2 separate regions of the Homo sapiens genome follow, and region 1 is linked to region 2. The links come from fine-mapping of genetic effects on gene expression. A gene starts in region 2. The other region holds a variant in brackets. All regions are shown on one strand. Distances are from middle to middle. Region 1 overlaps LOC105371059 (a long non-coding RNA gene). Region 2 holds the start of ZSCAN32 (zinc finger and SCAN domain containing 32).

What was found. PIP is the estimated chance that this variant, and not a neighbour inherited with it, causes the effect.
Region 1: its variant is the best candidate, but not a certain one, in a credible set for the expression of ZSCAN32 in whole blood (INTERVAL, PIP 0.85).

Annotation. Positions count from the first base shown.
Region 1 is chr16:3,372,528-3,375,545 of GRCh38, forward strand. The region is part of intron 1 of LOC105371059 (a long non-coding RNA gene); the gene reads left to right. Among named protein-coding and RNA genes, the nearest start is that of OR2C1, 18 kb to the left of the region's middle. The variant A/G (reference allele first, on the strand shown) is at 1,472.
Region 2 is chr16:3,399,951-3,402,450 of GRCh38, forward strand. It overlaps ZSCAN32 (zinc finger and SCAN domain containing 32), which reads right to left and starts at 1,054. Exons shown (of 7, transcript NM_001284527.2): 1 at 995-1,054. ZNF174 (zinc finger protein 174) reads left to right here and starts at 1,265. Exons shown (of 3, transcript NM_003450.3): 1 at 1,265-2,456. The coding sequence starts at 2,055. RefSeq lists silencers at 692-841, 1,392-1,611 and an enhancer at 815-1,314.

The DNA of each region.
Region 1 (3,018 bases), 27 kb before region 2:
GAGTTTCTCCATGTTGGTCAGGCTGGTCTCAATCTGCTGACCTCAGATGATCTGCCCACCTCGGTCTCCCAAAGTGCTGGGATTACAGGTGTGAGCCACCGCACCTGGCCTTGAATGCTTTCTTAATCGGTAGCTGCTTTTGGGCCAACTACGGTGGTAATATTTTTTACTCTCTGGAGGAAGGTTATTTCCTAGGGTCTAAACAGCTGTCCCAAAGAGGGACAATATTAAGGATGGGAGATTTGTCTCCTGTAAAATGCATCCTTTCTCCTCTGCAGGTTATGTTCACCTGGTCCTACTCTGAATGAGAATCTGCTGGTTTTTGAAAGGCCTGCTCTGTGATGGAGGGATTGCAATGCCCAGCAAGGTGTGGGCACTTTAGTTAAGTCCTCAGTGTCTGAGTCACACCTCTCCCCCAGACAGATCAATACAGCTGGCTTTCTGCTCGAGAGACGGCCAGAGGCCAGGCGCAGTGGCTCACGCCTGTAATCCCAGCACTTTGGGAGGCCCAGGCAGGTGGATCACGAGGTCAGGAGTTTGAGACCAGCCTGACCAACATGGTGAAACCCCGTCTCTACTGAAAATACAAAAATTAGCCGGGTGTGGGTGGCGCGTGCCTGTAATCCTAGCTACTCAGGAGACTGAGGCAGGAGAATCGCTTGAATCCGGGAGGCGGAGGTTGCAGTGAGCCGAGATCGCACCGCTATACTCCAGCCTGGGTGACAGAGTGAGACTCCATCTCAAAAAAAAAAAAAAAAAAAAGAGAGAGAGGGAGGGGGCCAAAGTGGGACCAGCTTGGGGCTGGGTACTGTGCTGCACGGTGTGACAGCTGTGGATCTGGGGTGGGAGCAGCCACAGACCTTCCTGCACTGCCCTAAGCCAACAGGACCCTGATGTGCTCTGTGTCCCTGGCAGCTGTGGTGCTGAGACCTTGACTGTCGAGGGGGTTTGGTTTACAGATTATTTTGTCACCGAGGTAATGAGCATAGTATCCAATAGGTAGTTTTCCAGTCCTCACCCTCCTCCCACTCTCTACCCTCTAGTAGGCCCCAGTGTCTGCTGTTCCCCTCTTTGTATCCATGTGTACTTCTAAGCTCCCGGTTACAAGTGAGAACACGTGTTATTTGGGTTTCTCTTCCATTGTTAATTCGCTTAAAATAATGGCCTCCAGCTCCATCCATGTTGGTGCAAAGGACATGATTTAATTCTTTTTTATGGTGGTGTAGTATCCCATGGTGTATATGTATGACATTTTGTTTATCTACTTCACCATTGATGGGCATCTAGATTGATTCCATGTCTTTGCTATTGTGAATAGCGCTACAATGAACATATGTGTGCGTGTGTCTTTTTGGTAGAACGATTATTCCTTTGGCTGTATGCCCAGTAATGGGATTGCTGGGTTGAATGGTAGCTCTAAGTTCTTTGAGAAATCTCCAAACTGATTTCCACAGTGGCTGAACTAATGTAC[A/G]TTCCCACCAGCAGTGTATAAGCATTCCCTTTTCTCTGCATCCTCACCAGCATCTGTCATTTTTTGACATTTTAGTAATAGCCATTCTGACTGCTTTGAGATGGTATCTCATGGGGATTTTGATTTGCATTTCTCTTATGATTAGTGATGAGTATTTTTTCACGTGCTTCTTGGCCACATGAATATCTGACTGCTCTTCTAATTCTGTTCTGCTCAGCTGCACTTGCCCCGCTCCACGTTCAAGTGTTTAGCTCTGGCTTTCAGGAATCTCTGTTACCATACCTCTGCTCTCTGAGCCCATACAGGGATTTCTGAAGGGATGAGGTAGGGTGTCAGTGATAGGGTTTTTTTTTCTCTGGGATTATGGGGGGAGTTGCCAAGCTCCTATTAGAGCCAATGAAGCCCCCTTCCTCAGGGACTTTCCCAAGAGAAGAGCCAGAGCTCATACTCAGGACCATTCAGACCATAAGGCCTTATAGAGGAACCCAGTGACTCCAAGAAATGGTGAGACACAAAAGAGTCTCAGGCTGGAAGGGGAAGAATCCAGGGATGAGAGCTCATCAGTGCCTGTGACATCATAGACATGACCGTACAGTTCTGTCATGACCAGAATTGGGGGAAAGAAGCAGGTGAAATGGTGGTGCAGCTGCCAGACTGAGACAGCTCAGTTCCTTATCTAAGCTTTGTCATGTCCTCCAGTCCTCCCTTCAGAAAGGCCCATATTCCATGATAGCCCCTAGAAGGGTCATGTCTTGGTGTTTTACACAGAACTCTTTGGGTTTCTCCATTAACTTAGCTACTGTGCCCAGCAGCCACCAGAGGCCCCAGAAGAAGAAACCAGCAGGGGATCTGGCTGCCTGGGTTCCTCGGGGGTGGTCTCACCATCAGGGGTGGGTGAGACCACCACAGCCACACTGTGAAAGTTTCAGAGTTTTCACTACTTACAGATCCTCAAGATAGGCAGGGTGACCAGAGAGAGGCAGACAGCAGTCCTCAGTTCCAGGTCTTATGTAGTGACAGCAGCTGCACACTTGTGGGAGAGGACTTCTGTTAAAGGCTTATTTGGGGGTAGGATGTCCTAATTTCATGGAATTACTTTCCACTGAGTCCTTCAACCACTTCTAGCACCAAAGGTAGTTGAGCAGTTTGGCATGAGGCTGGAGTTAAAACAGGGCTCTGCAGAGCAACTTCTTGTCTATCTTGGTCAGCCCTTGCCAGGCAACAATCAACTGTGGTTTCTTCATTACTCCTCAGACACTTGGGACATTCATGGTGACCTATTGGCACCCAAGGAAGAGAACCTGATTTTAATTTGGACTGATAAGCAAGTTTTCTGAACAGGTTTATAGGGATTAGTTTAGTCTGGACAGAGTGAGCCGGAATCAAAAGATACTGTTAATACCAGAGGACTAGAAGATCCCATGTGGAGATGTCAGGTGGCTTAGCCATTGAGAAAGAATGACAGTAGATCTGAAATGGTCCAGAGCCCAGATATTCAACAAAGGCTAAGAGCCAAGGTGAGAGGGTAAAGGGAAGGTGTGAACGAA
Region 2 (2,500 bases):
AACACAGATTAAAGCAGATCGTAATTTACATTTTCTCCAGGGGCTGATACACCCTCACCATGTGGTATTAAAATGGATCCAGCATGCACAACAAGATGAATATACTCAGGACTACTGAGCTGTACACTTAAAAATGGTTATGATGGTAAATGTTTTTTAAAAATTAAAGAAATTTTTTTATATTTTAAAAATGGATTTGGGTTCCCTTTTCTCAAGGAACTTGAACTGCCTTCACTTAAATTCTCTTTACATTTCAGTGCTTCTAGAGATAGAGAAATCAAGGGCATTATTATTGTTAGCACTGCTTTCTAGCCAAAAAGAAACTGAGAGCGATGAAGTATCTTGCCTAAAGCATCACACAGCACAGCTCCTAGGCAGCAAGGCCAGGACTAGAACCAGCACCCCTTGCCTTCATTATGTTCATCCTGTGCCTTACCTGGCTGAAGAAGAATTTAATAAAAGCTCTTCTAACTTCATGCAGAAGGCGGAACCTGCACCCTTCTTGACCCCTTTTGACCCCTTACCTCCCACTCATCGTTAAATTTTAAAATGCTGTTCTCTGAAAATTTTACTTCACTCTAGCGATGGCCCAAACACTCGGAAAAAAATGTAGCATGAGGATGGGGAGCCAGGTTGATAGGTTTTTCACTTAGTTAACTATTTATTGAGTACTCAGAACGCACTCGGTGCCAGGGCTAGGCACTGTGGATGAGTAGGGAGTGGGCGAGACAGGGACGAGATGAGCAGGGTCAAGGCCAGGGGGTCCCGGGGCGCCGGCGCTCAGGCTCGGGGTGATCCGCACGGTGGGAGCGGGGCACGGTGATCGCGGCGCGTCTGGGGACGCCCGGCCTGAGGGAGGCTGCCTGTCCCAAGGAGACGCCCATCGGGGCCGGACCCGAACGCCTCGGAGAAGACTCCCAGCGGGGAGGGGCTCCTCGGCCGTCGCAGGGCCCAGCGGCTAATCCCGCCGGCCGCAAGGAAGCGGAGAACTCACCGGACACCAGCACTCGCGACTCCACAAACTCCCTCAGCCTCCGGGCCGGAAGTCAGCGGCGCGATTCGCTCCGCCCATTACGCACGCCCCTGCGCAGGCCCGCAAGCCGAATTGCCGGACTGCAGCTCCCGGGATGCACTGCGACGGTATTGACAGGCGCAGCAACCAATAGACGGTAGAGAATGCCCTTGGCAGGAGGCGGGCCCTGTCAGTAGTTGTCCTCAGCAGCTAGTGGGCGTCTCCGCAGCGAGTGGCATCGGCCCCGCCCCCAGCCCGTGCTCGCCGGTGTCGGGTCCTAAGTCCCTCGGTCTTGGGTTCCCGGAGAGGTGAGTCGGCTGCAGGTGGGTGCGGGGCGCCGGGCTGTTCGGGGTACCGGTGTCGCAGTCGCCAGTCCGAGCTCACACCGGGCGTGGAGTTCAGCTGCGCATCGGGTTGCGGCAGCTTCGCCAGGCCTGGGGCTGGCTGGGCCGCGGGGCCGCCCTGGAGGCCGGAGCCACTGGGCCTGCGGCGCCTCGGCAGCGAGCAGCCGCTTTGCTCGCGTGCAGGAGGCTGTTCGCTACCTCACACCCCCGGCTGGCGCTGTGGCCTCGCTTAGCTCTACCGTTTAGCACCCGGCGACATGCACCCGGTCGGTTTCCGCCAGGATGCGGGAGAGTTGGGGCAAGCTACCTGCGACAGCTTGAACTTTTCCTAGGGATTCCGCTCCACCCGCCGGTTAGAGCGTATTGCTCATTAAATCCGAGACCTGTGTGCTTGCTACTGAAATAAAAGAAGTATTTTTTCCCCAGAGTCCTTTTAGGACGTTATGACTTTTCTCCTTTGCAAGACTGCAAAAAACTGACAAGAAGACAAAACTCTTCCCACTCCCAGGGACCGCGTTGTCTTGAGTTTGGCTAGTAAAGGCTAGCAAGTGAGGCTTTGTCTCTGCATCCCGTTCCCCCTAACATCCTCAGAGAACCTTCGTTTCTAGAATCTTTCTAGTATTCAGAGACTTCTCCAGGGTCATGATCCCAAAGGCTTAACCCGTTTACAAGGAGAGAGTTGTCTCCTGACGCCCAAAATGGCAGCTAAAATGGAGATAACTTTAAGCTCCAACACTGAAGCTTCCTCCAAGCAAGAGAGACACATAATAGCCAAACTAGAAGAGAAACGGGGCCCTCCTCTGCAAAAAAACTGCCCAGATCCTGAGCTCTGCCGCCAGAGCTTCAGACGCTTTTGTTATCAAGAGGTGTCTGGACCCCAAGAGGCTCTCTCCCAGCTCCGACAGCTCTGCCGTCAGTGGTTGCAACCCGAGCTGCACACCAAGGAGCAGATTTTGGAGCTTCTGGTGATGGAGCAGTTCCTGACCATCCTGCCCCCGGAGATCCAGGCTCGGGTCAGGCATCGATGTCCAATGAGCAGCAAGGAGATTGTGACCCTCGTGGAAGATTTTCACAGAGCATCCAAGAAACCAAAGCAGTGGGTAAGGAGGGTCCTCTCCCATCATCCTGGGGATTTCTTTTTCTT